Homo sapiens: one gene and its partner. The protein of the gene in region 1 purifies or fractionates together with the protein of each later gene. This does not show direct contact. Each region holds a gene or a part of one and is shown on either strand. Other genes may lie near its edges.

Evidence for each region.
Region 2: the proteins of ZNF558 (region 1) and RCBTB2 purify together in Homo sapiens (affinity purification with mass spectrometry; 2 studies listed by BioGRID and IntAct, with this or other methods). This does not show direct contact.

The regions. Positions count from the first base shown.
Region 1 is NC_000019.10:8,807,413-8,816,692, reverse strand, and holds part of ZNF558 (zinc finger protein 558), read left to right. Parts: intron 1-3,470; coding exon 3,471-3,566; intron 3,567-4,049; coding exon 4,050-4,132; intron 4,133-4,629; coding exon 4,630-5,412; 3' UTR 5,413-9,280. UniProt on the Homo sapiens protein: May be involved in transcriptional regulation.
Region 2 is NC_000013.11:48,493,035-48,502,314, reverse strand, and holds part of RCBTB2 (RCC1 and BTB domain-containing protein 2), read left to right. Parts: intron 1-446; coding exon 447-573; intron 574-2,554; coding exon 2,555-2,694; intron 2,695-5,993; coding exon 5,994-6,124; intron 6,125-9,280.

The DNA of each region.
Region 1 (9,280 bases):
CTCCATTATCTTTTCATTTTGTCCTGAAGTCACCCTTGATCATTTTTTGTAGGGTAGATGTAATAGTGACAAACACTCAGTCTTTGTTTATGGGAAGGTCTTCATTTCTTTATTTTTGAAGGGGAGTTTTGCCAGATATAGAATTCTTGGTTGCCATTTTTTCTCAGCTCTTTGAATGTACCACTCCAGCGCTTGGTGGTTTCCATGGTTTCTATTGAGAAATTGACTGTAATCTTACCGAGGATCCTGTTTACGTCATAAGTCATCTCCGTCTTGCTGTTTTTAGGATGCTGCCTTTGTCTTTCAACAGTTTGATTAATATGTGTTTGATGCCGGCTGCAATGGTTCACGCCTATAATCCCAACACTTTGGGAGGCTGAGGCAGAAGGACCCCTTGAGGTCAGGAGTATGAGACCAGCCTGGGCAACTTGGACCCTGTCTCTACAAAAAATTAAAAAATTAGTCAGACGTGCTGGTGCACACCTATGGTCCCAGCTTCTTGGAAGGCTGAGGTGGAAGGATTGCTTGACCCCAGGAGATTAAGGCTGCAGTGAGCCATGATCACACCACTGCACTCCAGCGTGGGTGACAGAATAAAACCCTGGCTCAAAAAATGTGTGTGTGTGTGTGTGTGTGTTTCAGTATGAATCTCTATTTTTTCAAATTTATTCTACTTGAGTTTGTTGAGCTTCTTGGATTTGTACATTTGTGCCTTTCATCAAATTTTGGGAAGTTTTTAGCCATTATTTCTTCAACCTTCTCACCCTTTTCTCTCTTTACATCTCTCTGGTTCTCCACATCCTATATATGTTGGTAGGTTCGATGGTATCCCAAAGGTCTCAGGCTCTGTTCATCTTTTTTAAAACTCACATTCTCTCTCTCTCTCTCTCTCTCTTTATCTTTGAGACAGGTTCTCACTCACTCTGTCACCTAGGCCGGAGTGCAGCAGAGTGATTGTGGCTTACTGCAGCCTTGACCTCCTGGGCTCAAGTGATCCTCCCACCTCAGCCTCCCAAATAGGGAGGCATGGCTAGAGACGTGCATCACCATGCCCAGCTAATTTTTTTAATTTTTTGTAGAGTCAGGATCTCACCATGTTTCCCAGGCTGGTCTTGAACTCCTGGTTGCAAGCAGTCCTCCTGCCTCAGCCTCCCAAAATGCTGGGATTATACATGAGCCATTGCACCTGGCATCTCTCTTTTTTCTGCTCCTCAGACTGGATAATATCGATTGTCCTATCTTCATGGTCACCAATTTTGTCTTCTGCCTGCTCAGATATGTTCTGAATGTTTCATTTCAGCTATTGTACTTTTCAACTCAAATTTTTTTATTTGCCTTCCTAAAGTTTCTGTCTCTTAATGTTTTCCATTTTTTGTATTTTTTTGATATGCCATAGTTGTACCTATTTTGCTGTTTTTCATTTGATGAAAATTTGTATTCATGGTTTCCTTTAGTTCTTTATACATATTTCTTTTACATCTTTTAGCAGATTTTAAATAGTTGACTTATTTTACTTGTCTAGTTAAGTCCAGTGTTTGAACTTCTGAAGGGACAATTTCTACCAGCTTCATTTTTCTTGTAATGGGCCCAACGTTTGTTTCCTTGCCTCCCTCATAATTATTTTGTTGAAACTAGGGTATTTGGAATATTATAATATAGCAATTTGGGAATCAGACTTTTCCCCATCTCCAGAGTTTGTTTTACTTGTTGTAGTTGGTATTGTATCTATAGAACATACAACAGTTCTAAAGTTAGTTGTGAAATAGAACTATTGTGTGTTCTAAAGTTGTAGAATATCATATATTGTAAACTCCTGTTAGAATATACAATAGTTCTATTTCAGAACTAACTTTGTAATGTCTGTATTTGTCATGTGTGGCCACCGAAGTCTCTTTTCTGATAGCGTAATGGTCATATAGTGATTTGAAGGCCTGGAACAAAAAAGGAAAAAACTTCTAGTCTCTTTACGTGGGCTCTGTGTGTACATAGGGACATGCCTTTAATACTTAGGTAGGCATTTAACTGTGCCTTGACCTTCATTTCTGGCTTGTGCAGAGCCTGAAGGTCACCAAAAGATGAGGGTTTTGTGCCTTCTCAGGTATTTTCTGGGCATGCTCCCAGCCCTGAGTATGTGCTTGGAATTACAGGTTCTTAAGAATATGAGGAAGATTTTCAAAGTCCTACTCCCCAAACATCTTTTTCCCCATTTTTCCTTTCAGGCTTTTCGGTTAGTCTTTTGTTTGCTTCTACTGTTTTCTCTTGCCTCAAGCAGTACTGACTAATACATTTACCTTTACATCTGTCGATCACGTGTGTTCCAGGTAACCAGCTCAGTCCTGAAAGAATTTGGAGTTAGATAAATAAAGACAACCCTTTGAGCCAGTCCTTCAGGGAACCACCAGACAGGTCAGGAAGAGCAACCACAGAGTAAGGTCTGTTCTGCTCCCTGCAAGTACTAGGAATGCAGGCTGTTGTCTTCAAGGTTGTAGAAAAAGCAGGGGAAAGAGGTCCATTTAAAGTATCATAAAGCTCTCTTACCCAGATTCAGCTGGGTTTTCTGAGAAGGCATTCTCCTGATTGCTGTGGACTTTTGATACATTTCAAGAATTCCGATAAAGTTGATTCGGACCGCTTTTGCCAGTTTACTCACTGTTTTTGTGGAGGGATGAACGTTTGGAATTCCGTCCTCCACCACTGTCACTGTCATCACTTCTTTCAAGTTTTCTTGAGCACCTCTGTGTTCCTAGGTCTGTGCAGTGACTTGGGAGTACAGTGATGAATGGGACCATATGGTCCCACCCTCATGGGCAGTCTCTAATTCCTGCCTTATGAACTGAAGATCTATTTCTTGTCCTGACTTTATATTCTTCATGGTTAAAAGTTTTGGGGCCTCTGAAGTGTGCATTTGAACTCAGGCATGGCCTTCTGGGGCTGTTTATGCCCTATCACCCTGAATATCTAGTTGAATATGCTTGTTGCATTTTTGTTCAGTGAGAGTTACCATATGCACTAGAATTAAGGTATAATTGGCAGGGCGTGGTGGCTCATGCCTGTAATCCCAGCACTTTGGGAGGCCAAGGTGGGTGGATCACGAGGCCAGGAGATCAAGAGATCAAGACCTGCCTGGCCAATATGGTGAAACCCCGTCTCTACTAAAAATACAAAAATTAGCCGGGCGTGGTTGTGTGCACCTGTAGTCCCAACTACTTGGGAGGCTGAGGCAGGAGAATCGCTTGAACCTGGAAGGCAGAGGTTGCAGTGAGCCGAGATCATGCCACTGCACTTCAACCCGGGCGACAGAGCAAGACTCCATCTCAAAATAAATAAAAAAAAGAAAAGAATTAAGGCATAATTTATTTCACTGCTCCTAAAGTCACACTTTTCCATCTTCATAAATGTTGGCTTTCTTTCATGGACTTGGTTGTCCCCAGCACTGTTACCTATATCATGTGTATTGTTTCCATAAATAGGGTGTCGTGTTAATAAACCCAGTCTGATATCCCAGTTGGAACAAGACAAGAAGGTGGTGACAGAGGAAAGAGGAATTCTACCAAGCACCTGTCCAGGTGAGCACCAGGTGGATATGAGCCCTTGTGAGGAATAGCTCTGGCCAGTGACTTGGGGGTTGGGAGTATTACATTAGTTCATGTCAATCAGGGAACTTTGTAAAATACCCTGTTCCTGACAAACATGCACGAGAACATTTGGTGTGAGCTTCCTCATGTCCTTTCTTTTCTCTCTAACTCCCTTGTCATCATCTCATACTTCACTTTGGGCTCAGGGAAGAAACAAAGATGCAACTCTTTTGAAAATTTCAGTCAAGTTCCTTTCCACTTTGCATTCCTGATCACTCCTCTTGTCAATCTGTGATCAATCTCAATTTGTCTAGAATCCTTTTTTAAAATTAATACCTAAAATTTTCATAACCAAATCCTCTTTGTTGCAAACATCCTCAAAAACCCTGATCCCTCAGAATCTGCCTTTACTCATGTGTACACTTTTCCATTTCTTTTCTCCATCAACCTAAATTTCTTTTCAATTTGTTTCAGATTTGGAGACTCTACTTAAAGCCAAATGGTTAACTCCTAAGAAGAATGTTTTCAGAAAAGAACAGTCTAAAGGTGTAAAAACGGTAAGACTAACATGGGTGATTTCTGGTTTTCTACAGTAGGAGAATGCCTTAAGTTTAGAAAGGGCACAAAATAACCAGGAGAGGCATTAAAGGAAAGTGTCATTTATAATTGAGAATGCTGTGTTCCTGGAGAGACACTGTGAAAATTATAAATATTTAGAGAAGTGTGAGTTAGCTCCAAACTTATTTCTTCACGGAGAGTTCCCACAAGTAAATATTTCCTATCTGTGGCTCAGATATTGACTGTTGGAACAAAACTTCATCCACACGTTATCAGAAAATGTTTTGTGCATCTGATAAGGACTTGTGGCAAAGCATCTATGTTTTTTAACTTTCTTAGAGCTAAAACTGGGCAGAAATCACATACAACCACTGAAAGTAGCCAAAATATCAATTATAATAATGTAACAGAATTCCTGGGAGAGAAGATTCCTAGGAGAACATTAAGTATTTCAAATATTATAAATTATAGTTATCATTCATCTCTTAATCCACAGGAAAGAAGTCATCGTGGAGTGAAACTCAATGAATGTAATCAGTGTTTTAAAGTCTTCAGCACGAAATCTAACCTAACTCAGCACAAGAGAATTCATACTGGAGAAAAACCCTATGACTGTAGTCAATGTGGGAAGTCCTTCAGTAGCAGATCTTACCTTACTATTCATAAGAGAATCCATAATGGGGAGAAACCCTATGAATGCAATCACTGTGGGAAAGCATTTAGTGATCCCTCATCCCTTAGACTGCATTTGAGAATTCACACTGGAGAAAAACCCTATGAATGTAACCAGTGTTTTCACGTTTTCCGCACCAGTTGTAACCTCAAAAGCCACAAGAGGATTCACACGGGGGAGAATCACCATGAATGTAATCAGTGTGGAAAAGCTTTCAGCACAAGGTCCTCTCTCACTGGGCACAATAGCATTCATACAGGGGAGAAACCTTATGAATGTCACGATTGTGGGAAAACCTTCAGGAAGAGCTCCTATCTGACACAGCACGTAAGAACTCATACTGGAGAAAAACCCTATGAATGTAACGAGTGTGGGAAATCCTTCAGCAGTAGCTTTTCTCTTACTGTGCACAAGAGAATACATACCGGAGAGAAACCCTACGAGTGCAGTGACTGTGGAAAAGCCTTTAATAATCTCTCAGCTGTGAAGAAACACTTAAGAACTCACACTGGAGAAAAACCCTATGAATGTAATCATTGTGGGAAATCCTTCACAAGTAACTCCTATCTTTCTGTGCACAAGAGAATACATAATAGATGGATATGAATTACTGCAGGAACTTCTGGAGGAAAGCACTCATTGATCTTTCATCCCTAAGATAGTTTGAGAGAGCTCACACTGGATATATAAGTTATTTGTTGCAGCATAACAAATGATCCCCGCAAATTTTGTGGCTTCAAACACGAAATGTTTATTCTCTAACAATTTCTACAGATCAGGAATTCAAGAACAGCTTATCTCTGTAGTTACACTGCAGGATCTCTCATGCCTTTACTTACAATCAAGATGTCAGCCAAAGCTATAGTCATCTAACATCTTTACTGATGAACAGTCCACTTCCAAGATGACTTATTCACATGCCTGGAAAGTTGATGTTGGTTGTTGTCAGGGGACCTTCAGTCATTACCATGTAGGCCTCTTTACAAGGCCCAGCTCCTTGACAATTTGGCAATAAGTTCTCGCCAAGGTTAGTGATCCAAGAGAGGACCAATACAGAGGCCAAAATGGCTTTTATGACCTATCCTCAGGAGGACTGCTAAGCTTTCACTTATTTCCTATTGTGTTGGTCTCACAACACACCAATCCTGATACAATGTGAGAGACTGCAGAAGGTATGAATACCAGGAAACAGATAACTCAGAAGCATCTGGGAAATTTGCCATGGAATTAATGAAGAAAAGCCCTCAGCACATCATCCTTCTACTCTAATCAATATGAAATAGCATTCAGTAACTCCTATTAATTCACTCTGAAGAGAAACCTTTTGAGGACAATCTGTATGGTAAAGCTCTCAGCTCGAATTCTCACCTTCATGGGCCCAGAAGATTATGTACTGAGAGAATCCTGAAGAATGGAACAGCTGTAGAAAGCCTTCAGTGCTATCAGCAGGGATTCATGTGACAGCTCACACTAAGGGAGAAAACCTGTGAAGGTCTCAGAAGGCTTCAGTGACAGTCATCCCTTAAGACGCACTGGAAATCACACAATGGAACAACACTCAGAAATGCGGAATACCCTACAGCAAAAGTGTTCACATTACTGAGCAAACTATAGTGTGGTATTCTGCAGTGACTATGGGAAAGCCTTGAATGTTCTATCGGTTTTTAAGGGACTTGAGAATTAATTCTGGAGAGAATGCCCCATTGAACATCATCAATATTGGAGAGCTTTCTGTTTTTCTACATTTGTTAGGAAACTTGTGAGCATTCACACTACAGAGAAACTTGAAATATAAAGAAGAAGAGAAAGCCTTCAGTGATGCCTCTGTGTTAGGGAAAATATGGAACTTCTCCCTGGATGCAAAACCTATGAGTATATTAATATTGGAAAATTTTTCAGTGATTCTTCTCTTTCTTGTATATGAGAGAACTTATATGGAGAAACCCCTAGGAATGTAATCAGTGTTAGGATGCCTCAGCCTGAACTCTTCACTGAGTGGCCACAATTTTCACTGGGAACAAAAAGTATAATCACTGTTTTGAGTGTGGGATATCCTTTATCAGTGTCTCATCTGTAGATTGGACTGCTGGCTCATTAATTTTTTTAGTCTTTTTTTCTTTTAATATAAACATTTGTGTATAGCTGTTCCCTAAAATAAACATTAACATATTTCATAATTTTAATGCAATGTATTTATTATAATTAATTTGCTTGTTAAAGACATCCACACATTGCATATTCAAAAAGTTATTTCCAAATACCTTCTGAGTGATTCAGTTTATCATAATGGAAATTAGTATTTATAAACACATTTTTCTAATGTAGTGGTATTTTTGGCAGAGTACATGAGCTTTATGATACTGATTATTTTCTCTCTATCTTGGTATGCCAAATACTGTTGGTTTCTTTCCCAGTGTCCGTTCTCTTCAGTTTATTCGTTTAAAGAAACAAACATGTTGTTCAAGTTGTCTGTGAACAATATCGAAAGTTCTCAATCTTATAGTTTTTCCTGAAGCCCAGGCGGGTTTTTTCGCACTCCCCTGGCAATGAGAAGTAAGTCGAAGTCACTGTGTGGAACATCTCCTGGCTTGTTCTCCTCACATATTTTCCATTCACCTCACCCATTCTGTCTCTTGGAAAGTGGCCTCAAGGTCTAGAGTTTGAAGAGCTTCTTTTTGACCACAATGACAGAAACCAAAGTGCAGCCAAAAATCACAATGCTTTGGGCTCTCCAGGAGCCTCCGATTGGCTGCATCTGCTCTGGACTCCTTATTCTTATACTTCTTATGTGACTAAAAGAAACCCCTAGGCTGGGTGTGGTGGCTCACGCCTTTAATCCCAGCACTTTTGAGAGGCTGAGGTGGGTGGATCATGAGGTCAACAGATTGAGACCATCCTGGCCAACGTGGTGAAACCCTATCTCTACTAAAAGTATAAAGATTAGCTGGGTGTGGTGGTGCACACCTGTATTCCCAGCTACTCGGGAAACTGAGACAGGAGAATTGCCTGAACCTGGGAGGTAGAGGTTGCAGTGAGCCAAGATGGCGCCAGTGCACTCCAGCCTGGCAACAGAGCGAGACTCCATCTCAAAATAAACAAATAAATATTTTTAAAAAAAGAAACCCCTAACTGATTGAAGCCAACATGATCTGTTGTTTGTTTTTGAGGTGGTGTTCTGTTAACTTCCAGCAGGATGCAGAATCTAACTGGTAAACCTATAAATTGGTCAAGTTTTACCCATGTTGTTTCTTTGAAAACAATGTATATTCTCTAATATTTGGATATAGGGTATATGAACATTAATGCAACTTAATTGTATTTCCAAGTACAGTACGTATGTTCAGATTTCTTTTTCTAACCTTATTTAGTGATAGAGGTGTGGTAAACTCTTCCATTATGTTTATGTATTAACACTGTAATTTTGTCATTTTTATATATTTTGACATTATGTAACTAGATGCATACAGGATTAGGTATTCTGTATTCCTTTTTATGTGGAGATGATATTTTTACATAGCAAAGTATTGTAATGCATTAATAATAAATGGTCAAACATTTATTTATTTATTTATTTATTTTAGATGGAGTTTCACTCTTGTCATCAAGGGTGGAGTGCAATGGTGCGATCTCGGCTCACTGCAACCTTGGCCTCCCAGGTTCCAGCAATTCTCCTGCCTCAGCCTCCTGAGTAGCTGGGATTACAGGCACCTGCCACCACGCCCAGGTAATTTTTTTATATTTTTAGTAGAGATGGGGTTTCACCATGTTGGCCAGGCTAGTCTCGAACTCCTGATGGTCAGACATTTATATTGCACTTCCCATAGATCAGGCCCCCTTCTAAATGACATATAAGTATTAACTCAGTATGCATTATAAACTTAAGTATGTAATGTTATTATCCCCAGTTTACAGATGAGAAAACTGGTATGATACACTTAAGTTACTTGCCTGCATTCACTGACTGGTAAATGGTAGAGCCAAGATCTGAACCCAGACAGTCCATGCACTTAACCACTACCCTATTAACGGAGTATGTTCTGTGTGCCAGGCAAAGTTTTGCCATTGAAATACTTCACCTAATGGAGGAGGAACAGATTATAGAAAAATCAAGAAAATATGGTATTATAGAGTTATAGGAAAAAAAAGCATTTTAGGAGAGTTAAGGGGGGTTGGGAATAATAATTTTATATAACTAGGAAAAGAAAGCCTCTTGGTAAGGAGCATTTGAGCGGAGATCTCAACAAGTTGGGACAGTGAGTCATATGAATTTGTCTTGCAAGAGTAGTGTTGGCATGCAAAGGCCCACAACAAGGAGGCCAATACAGCTGGAGTGGAACAAAGGGGTGATGAGGGAGCAGTAAAAGATGATGTGGTCAGAGACATGGTAGATCCTGATCTTGTTGGGTTTTCTGAGACATTGTTAGGACTTTTCCTTATTTCAGTGAGTTGGCACATCAGTCAGGGTCCCAGCAGG
Region 2 (9,280 bases), on another chromosome or scaffold:
CTCTCTGTGTTGCCCAGGCTGGTCTTAAACCGTGGGCCTCAGACCATCTTTCTGTCTCTGCCCCTGCCAAAGTGTTGGGATCACAGGTGTGAGCCATTGTGCCCTATCCTTATTTGAGTGCTTTTTAATTTTACTGAGAAACTGTTTTTTACTTTTAACTAGCGTATTTACTCAAATGTTTAAAATTTCATGCAAAATTAGTGATGTGGCTTGGGACTTTTTCTTGTTATTTTGCCAGATTTATAAGCAGATATTTGTGAGATTCTTATTCTTAATGATTACAGAGATGCAAATCTGTCTTCAGGGGAAAAAATCCATTGCTCAGTTGCTCAGTTATTTTGAGGAATTGGTACTTTCATGAGTACCAGTAGAGTAGTGCCATATCCTGTCCTGTGTGTTCATTATGTCTGTAGCTAACTCTGGAAGCATTTGCATTATTCTCCTAGAACCTGATGACCACCTCACAGTGGCTGAGTCACTGAAGAGGGAATTTGACAACCCGGACACTGCAGACCTGAAGTTTCTAGTTGATGGAAAGTACATTTATGCACATAAAGTCCTTCTCAAGATTCGGTAAGGAATCATTTATTTGAGAATTGAGAAAAGTAATTCGTTCAACAATTATATTCTAAGTGTCCAACTATATTAGGCACCTCAGTAATCAAGAAAAATTGTAAGGCTGTTTTTGCTCTTACAAGCATACAGTGGAGCGGGGAGAAATATACATGAAACAAGAAATAACACAGGTTGTGTGGTTCCGGGAACCAGTACCATAGGCGTTCCTTAGGCTTGAAAAGTGGCGTGGTCACCTTGGCAGCAGGGAGCAGCCAGCGCACGCTCCAAGTGTGTCCTGTGCTCTGAACACTGTATTGATACTTGGACGTCCATCAGTTACCGTTTCTGCCTGGGAATCAAGCTCAGCTCTTAATAATCACCTTCTTATAATCACTTGTGGCGTACTTTTAGATGGTTTAAGAAAGAGAAGATCAAGGCCTTTCCAGACCAAAAAGGTCTATAGTGAGGCTAGCACAGAGATTTTAAAAAATCACATTTGTGAATGTTTTTGAGCAATGAGCTGTGTGCATTTCAAATGTGCAGTTTGATGAGTGCTGACACATGTCTACGCCTGTGAAACCACTGCCCCACATCCAGACAGAGAACATTCCCATCACCCTTCAAAGACCCCTCATGTCCTAGCCCTGGGTGACCGCAGCTCCTTCTGTCACTGTAGCTGAGTTAGCATTTTCTAGAGTGTATTTAGATGGGATGATACAGGATGCATTCATTTGTGCTTGGCTTCTTTCTTTTACATGATGATTTTGAAATTCATTATGTTGTTGTGTAACAGATATTTAAATCCTACTGCAGTGAGTCACACACTCAACACAGCATTTTAGTCTCAAGTTCCTCTTTAGTAAGATCAAGCTGTGCAGCGTTTGCTCACTCTCTCTATATCACATCAACCTGCATGAAAGAAGGGGGGTGGATTTGTTTGCTGTAACACAGTACTATGGCCCGGGTGGCTTAAGCAACATAAAGTTCTGGAGGCTGGAAATCCCAGATCAAAAGTGTCACCTGGATGGGTTTCTTGTGAGGCTGTGAGTGAGAATCTGTTCCTGCCTCTTTCCTAGCTGCTGGGGATTTGCAGACAGTCTTTGGCCTTCCTTGGCATGTGGCTGCTTAACTCCAGTCAGCATGTGGCATTCTCCCTTTGTGCATGTCTGTGTCCAAATTTCCCCCCACCTTATTTTTTTTAGATGGCAGAGTCTTTCTCTATTGCCCAGGCTGGAGTGCAGTGGCCTGATCTCGGCTCACTGCAACCTCCTCCTCCCAGGTTCAAGTGATTCTCCTGCCTCAGCCTCCTGAGTAGCTGGGATTACAGGCGCACACCACCATGCCTGGCTAATTTTTGTATTTTTAGTAGAGATGGGGTTTCACCATATTGGCCAGGCTGGTCTCAAACTCCTGACCTCGTGATCCACCCGCCTCGGCCTTCCAAAGTGCTGGGATTACAGGCGTGAGCCACCGCGCCCTGTCCAAATTTCCCCTTTTTATAAAGATGCCAGTCATATTGGATTAGGGCCCACCCTAGTGACCTTCTTATAACTTGATTACCTCTTTAAAGGCTCTCTTTCCTAGTAAGGTCACATTTTGAGGTATTGGCCATTAGGACTTCAACACAGGAATTTTTAGAGGACATCATTCAACCCGTAATGGAGTGAGGAAACAGAATTACTTAGATTTTATAAAAATAAACCCACTGATTTCTCTAAATGCTGACAGTGGTTGTGGTGTGAGAGAGATGCCAGGGAGCCCAGCTCTGTCCCCATTAGCACGGCCATTGGGGCTGCTTCCCAGGCCACCCCTGGCAGCAGGTTTGTATATACAGCCTTGCTGAATAGATGATTGTTTGAAAACCCTGGCCAGCAAAGAAAGTGAGGAGCCACAGCAGGGACGTGCCAGCGTGCACCTTCGAGAGAAGAACGTGGTCCTCACAGAGGCCATCTGTCCTGGCTGGGAAGCTAGGACCTGACATACTGCTTTTTTCCTTCAGATGTGAGCATTTTCGTTCGTCATTGGAAGATAACGAGGATGATATTGTAGAAATGAGTGAATTTTCATATCCTGTTTACCGGGCCTTCCTGGAATACCTATACACAGACAGCATCAGCCTTTCTCCTGAGGAGGCAGTAGGTAATTGCCAAAGACTTCCAAAAACTTGGCAAAATGTTGAGGAACTGACAAGGTGGTTTCTATAGAACCTAAAAGAAAGTCACTGTGAGGGTAATTACAGAAGTATTTCTTTTTGTGTGTGTTGAATCCAAACACGTTTCCCTTGTTACTACTTTATTACAAAGGTTGACTGGACAGATAAGAGAGAGAAGAATCAAATCATCACCACCGTGGAGCATTGCAGGCAGCAGCATGGAGGAAGGGACAGAGACTGAGGGCCATGCAGCAGATCCCCGTGTCTCCACCAGCAGGGCCCAGGAATTCCACTTATTTCAGACTGTGGGCCTGAGTCAGTCAAGTCTGTGCCCAGTGGCTTAGGAGGCTGGGAAAATGGGCATTTCCAGAGGGCCGTAGCTTGGCTAAAAATTCTGTGGTTTCAGTAGAAAGGAAGAATGGATGTGTGTGTGTGTGTGAGAGAGAGAGAGAGAGAGAGAGAGAGTGTGTGTGTGTGTGTGTGTGTGTGTGTGTGTTGGGGTGGGGGTCGGGAGAGAGGCAACTAGCAGCTTCTGCCACAGGAGAGATGTGATCTGTGTTTAAAACATCAGTTATTATATTGGTTCAGGTGTGAGATGATGGTCTCCTGGGTTGGGGTTGTATAGCAGTGGAAGTATTGAAAAGAGATCAGATTCTAGATATATTTTAAAGAGGTTGCTGATGGGATTTGTTGATAGATGGGATGAGAGGTGTGAGTTGAGAGAGAAGGATGGCTGCACTGAGGTACTTGGCCTGGGTAGCTGCCTTAATGGCACTGAGGTGAGGAAGATAGAGAACAACAGGCTTGCTCTGGACTTTGAAAGTCAAAGGAGTTTGAGCTTCCCATTAGATACCCAAGTGATAATTTTTTTTTTTTTGAGACAGAGTTTCACTCTTGTTGCCCAGGCTGGAGTGCAATGGCACGATCTCCGCTCACCACAACCTCCGCCTCCCGGTTTCAAGCGATTCTCCTGCCTCAGCCTCTCGAGTAGCTGGGATTACAGGCATGCACCACCACGCCTGGCTAATTTTGTATTTTTAGTAGAAACGAGGTTTCTCCGTGTTGGTCAGGCTGGTCTTGAACTCCCGACCTCAGGTGATCCGCCCATCTTGGCCTCCCAAAGTGCTGGGATTACAGGCGTGAGCCACTGCGCCCGGCCGCGAGTGGCAGTTTTTTATCGGCCCACCACTAACATTTGTGGGGCTGTAGCCAAGACTCCAAATGGAGACCTATGTTCCATATGTCTAAAAACTTAAAGTTATATGTCAAGCTAGTGAACTTCAGATAAAAATATGTCCAATCCTCCCACCTTGAAAAATGTAATTTCATTAAGAACTGAAAGGACAGGTTTCAATTTTAGTTGACATTTAGAGTTGCAGGACTTCTTGTGCCAGAACCCAATGGCACAGGCAGGACAGACCCCTCCTCCAGCAGAAGGGTGTGTGGGCACCCTAGCTTGCATTCCAAGCTCTATCCACCCCCAACCCAGGTTACCCTTTTGGGCCAGGGGGTCTGCACATTGGTGGTGGGGTCTAAGGGAGGAAATACCCACACATGTGGCCTCAAGGCCAATTATGCAGGCAGTCCCAGGTTCCCAGGTACCCAAAGTGTGGTCTAGAAGTGGGCATGTGGCTCCTTAGCCACCCTGTGCTGAAGGTGTGCGTGGAGGAGGCGCAGAGCTGGGGCTTGGGGCAGAGTCCTCTCTTAGGGCAGTGCAGCTTGCATGTGTGTCTGAAGCTTGGGGCCAAAAACAATGAAGCCATTCACAACTCAAGATTTCAGTGTCCTCCAGTGGGCTATCTGTCTTTCCTCTATAACTTTGATAATATTTGTTATTAAAAAAGCAAGTTTCCAACCAAAGTCTACCACATGTATAAGATTTATTAGCAGATAGACACAAAAACAATTAATATGGTAAAATTGATGAAATCCCTGCTCTTTATACTTCGTACACTCTATTAAGTACCTTGCATGAAAAGTTAGCTTGAGGTGGACATGACAGTGTTCTAGTAGCCGGATTCAGCTAGCCTTTTGATCCTGGCTACCACTCATTTCAGCAATGACAAACTAATTCTGACATTCTTTATGCTAATTACAAATCCTGTAATGAAGATTCAGAAAAACAAATAGGATCTTTCAGATGCTGATTGACTGCTTCAATTAGAGTACTTCCTATCATTCCTTGGGGTAGATTAAAATTAATTTACATATGTCACCTCACCCAGTCTACGTTGAATTACTTGAAAATAGGTGACAGGTAATATAACAGGACTCACCTGCATATATAGATGATATTTAAAACCCTGGGGCTGGGGTTTTGGGAAGTAAGTGAGGAAAGTGTCTGAGGATTTAACCCTGGGGCACTCAAACATTTGGAAGTCAGGAAAAATGATCCAGCCTAGAGAACTGAGGAGCAACTAATTAAAGAGAAGAAAAATGCAAGCAAGTGACAAAGTGTCCTAAGGAGAGCATTATCAACCATATCAAATTCTGTGTAAATGTCGAGTAAGAGGAAACCAGAGAATATTGCACCCTCAAAGCCACTGTGACTGCCACAGGTGTGACCACCAAGGGTGTGACTGCAGTAGTGGTGGGGATGGGGTTCTGCTTGTAATGGCTTGAGGTCAGAATGGGAGGTGGGAAAATGGAGACAGCAGATACAGATAGCTCTGTCTAGGAGTTTTGCTGTAGAGAGGAGCAGTGGGATAGGGTAACAGGAGGAAGACACGTGTCCATGAAAGGGTCTCCCCTCCCCTCCTCTCCCCTCTCCTCCTCTCCCCTCCCCTCCTCTCCCCTCCCCTCCTCTCCCCTCCCCTCTTCTCTTCTCCCCTCCCTTCCCCTCCCCTCCCTCTCCTGTCCTCTCTTCTTTTCTTCTCTTTTGTTTTCTTTTCTTCTTTTCTTTTCTTTCTTTTCACGGCGGGCACTCTTACAGCATGTGTGTGTGCTCCTGGGAGTGGCCCAGGAGAAGCTGACATTGAGATTGCAGGGGAAGGGGTCATTCAAGGCGCACATGCTTTTTTCCTAGGAAAAAAATATTAAAGCTATTTTCCCTGTGCTCCTGTTTTTCAACAGCTAATGATTTGTGTATCATGTTTGCTCAGCTTGGCTGCCATCCTGGGTAGAGCCCCACACTGAAGTGTAAGTGTCAGTCAGCATCAGTCTATGCAGTGCTTCACTGAGGATTATATCTAAAATAGTGTCAAAATCATCTCTGAGTGGCTGAGTGAGCAACTGTAAATCAGGATGCTTGAAATCACTCCCCCTAATAAACACCTCTTTCCGCCAGGACTGCTAGACTTGGCTACATTTTATAGAGAAAATCGTTTGAAAAAGCTCTGCCAACAAACTATCAAGCAAGGCATCTGCGAGGAGAATGCCATCGCTCTGCTCTCGGCTGCGGTGAAGTATGATGCACAGGTAAGGAAAGCTTGCTTCCAGCTGCCGGCCTCCTGGAGAAATGGAACCCAGGTGTCTGCCTCGTACCTTAAACTAAAAGAAAGTCTGGGTAGAGGAAATATTTAATATTTTTTAAAAAATGAAGTAACAAGAGTACTAGACAACGTATAAGCAAGTATTTATATAATGTTGGGATGGACATCAAAGGCAGAAGCCATAAAGGATTTATAGCTCTGATTTAAAAAGATAAGAAACTTTTATCCACTTAAAAATACCATAGAGAAACTTACAAAGTAATGAGACACTGGGAAAAATACTTGCAACATATAATGAAGTCTGTTTACCAGAGTGAAAAACAAAAAGACAATAGGAACAGTTTGGTTGAAAGAAATGGACCAAAGAACAAATGGCTCTATAAATAGACAAAAAACATAAATGAAAACAAGGTATAACTTTTCACCTGTCAAAGCAGGAATATATTTTTAGAGATAATGTATAGGATCAGAATAATGGTGTTCTCCTAAACTGCTGATGAGAGTACAAATTGGTATGGAGAACAATTTGGTATAATATGTATTAAGCACCTTAAATTAAAGACATAATTCTTCAAGGAATTCACTCACAAGTATTTATCTTGAGGAATTAATCATGGATTTGCACAAAGACTTAGCTTCAAAGGTGTTTACTTCAGCAGTTTATAATTTTGAAAAATCAGAAAAAGGTTAGTGTGAATAGTGGAGGCTTGTTTATAAAATGTTAATATCAAGAAATTATGCAGCTATTCAAGATATATCACTAAGTGAAAAACTTATCCTATTTTTATTTTTTGAAAAAGTATAAATAGCTGAATAAAAAACTAAAATTCATTATCTACATAGAAAAAAAGACTGAAAACTATGCTTAGTGGTTATCATTGAATGGTGGGATTGTGGGTGATTTTTATTTTCTTCTCTTTGCTTATTTTTTTTTAACTTTTACAGTGACCATGTATTGTTATGATAATAAAGAAAGGAAAGAAAACCAATCTTAGAACCAAATCTTTAGGAAACAGGCTGTAACATCTTCGAGTCAGTTTCCTTTTGGTATAAGGATATCCTCTCCTTTGGTCAAAGAAAACAGAGACATTTTAGTAGATGAAAGGTTATAACTTTTTTTCTGTTTACATAAATAATACTATGCTTATTAAAGAAAATTTGTAAAAGACAAAAAGTGAGGAAGGTAATGACTCATCAACCAGAGAACATTAGCACTTTCATATAACAGCTTCTGAGTTTTTGTTTTATGTCACATTATATATTTGTAAATACTTGAAACCTAGATTTTTTTTCACTTAACATTAAAAAAAAAGTACTACCTCAAAACAATGACATTTAACAGCACAGTGAATGTTTTATATCAAGGCAATAACATATTGGGCACTTACAACACAGAATGTTTCATGGTCAGACAAAATCCATGCACTTTTCCTAGTCCATTCTTGAGCATCACAGTGATGAGCCACGGTGATGGAGGGCCATCTCAGATGTCAAGATGGTGGCACGTGGTGTTTGCATCTGAATCAGGCTTCATTTTTAATACTTTTTTATATTCTCTATTTATGTGAATTATTTGTCTGGCTACCTTCCAGCTCTCTGTTTTCTAGAAAGTAAGCTCTTTGAGGCATGGCAGGGACTTTGTTTTGCTCACAACCATATCCCCAGCGCCTAGGACGGTGTCTGACACAGAGTAGGTACCTACTAAATACCCCTTTCATGGATGTTCAGTTTTGCCTATAGAGATGCACTGTTGTACTACAGCCTGTCCAGCTAATTGCTGTACCCTAAATTAGTATAATAGACTATAAGTAAAATAGACTGTATATGTACTTAATGTAAAATACAAGCTTTCGTAAATAAAGAACAGTGCTGTATTTGATTTGCCTGGCTCAAATAAGCAAGAAATGGGCTCTTTCAGCAAATTATTATCCCTCATGCTGGACTGTCACTTAGTACATAATTAATATGAGCCAGGGATTATTCTAAGCACAGTTCATGTTTCATTTACTCCTCAAAACAACCTTATATGACATAGGCATTATTATATTAGATCCAGTTTATAAATGAGAAAACTGAAGCTTGGAAAGATTAAGTAATCTGAGTAAACTAGTAAACTGCAAAACTGGGATACAGTCCAAGATTGGGCACATTTTAAAACCGCATGTTTAACTACAATTCTCCATTGTCCTCAGTATTTTGAAATCAGGAGTATTTATGCATGGATTCAACAAATATTCACTGAGTGCCTGCTACATGCCTGGCACTGCCCTACGCACTGGGGTACTGCAAATGAACAAAACAATCCAAAATCTCTGCTCTCATGGGAATTTCTGGTGAGGGGAGATAGGTGATCAATAAATGAATAGGATATATAGTATGTCAGATGGTGACAAGTGATATGGAAAGAAGTAAGACAGGGAAGACAGCCTAGGGAATGCCATCCTGAGATGAAAGTTGAAATTTTAAATAGAATGGTCAGGGAGGCAAGACATCAGTGAGCAGGTGACTCAAGCAGAGACCTGAAGGAGGTGTGGGTGGTGTGTTCTGGGAAAAGCAAGCCCGGTGTGGAGGGAGCACAGTGGGGAGGGAAGTAGCTGATGAGGCAGGGAGATGGTGCGGTGGAGGTGCACAGTGGCGTGTGTGGGAGGAGGCAGGGCCTGCAGAGTCCATAGGCAAGTTTCAGGAATCAGAGTTCCAAGGTGAGTGGCCATCAGAGGGTTTGGAGAGGAGCAGATATGATGGGCATTTGAAGTAATCCTCCTGCCTCCTGGCTGCTGTGTTGAGGAGGGAGGGAGGGAGGTAGGGAGAGAGAGAGAGGGTGAGAGAGAGAAGAGAAGAGAGAGAGAGAGAGAGAGAGAGAGTGTGTGTGTGTGTGTGTGTGTGTGTGGAGAGAGAGAGAGGGTGAGAGAGAGAAGAGTGTGTGTGTGTGTGTGTGTGTGTGTGTGTGTGTGAAGGAGGGTACTTAGGAGGCTGTATAATCCAGTAAGTGATGATGGTGGATTGGTCCAAGTTATCACCTGTGGGGATGGTAAAAAGTGGTTAAGATTTTGAATACATTTTGAAAGTAGAGCCAACAGGATGTGCGGATGGATTAGATGTGAGGAAAAAAAAGACGACTGAGGAGGTTCTGTCCCTCAGCAGC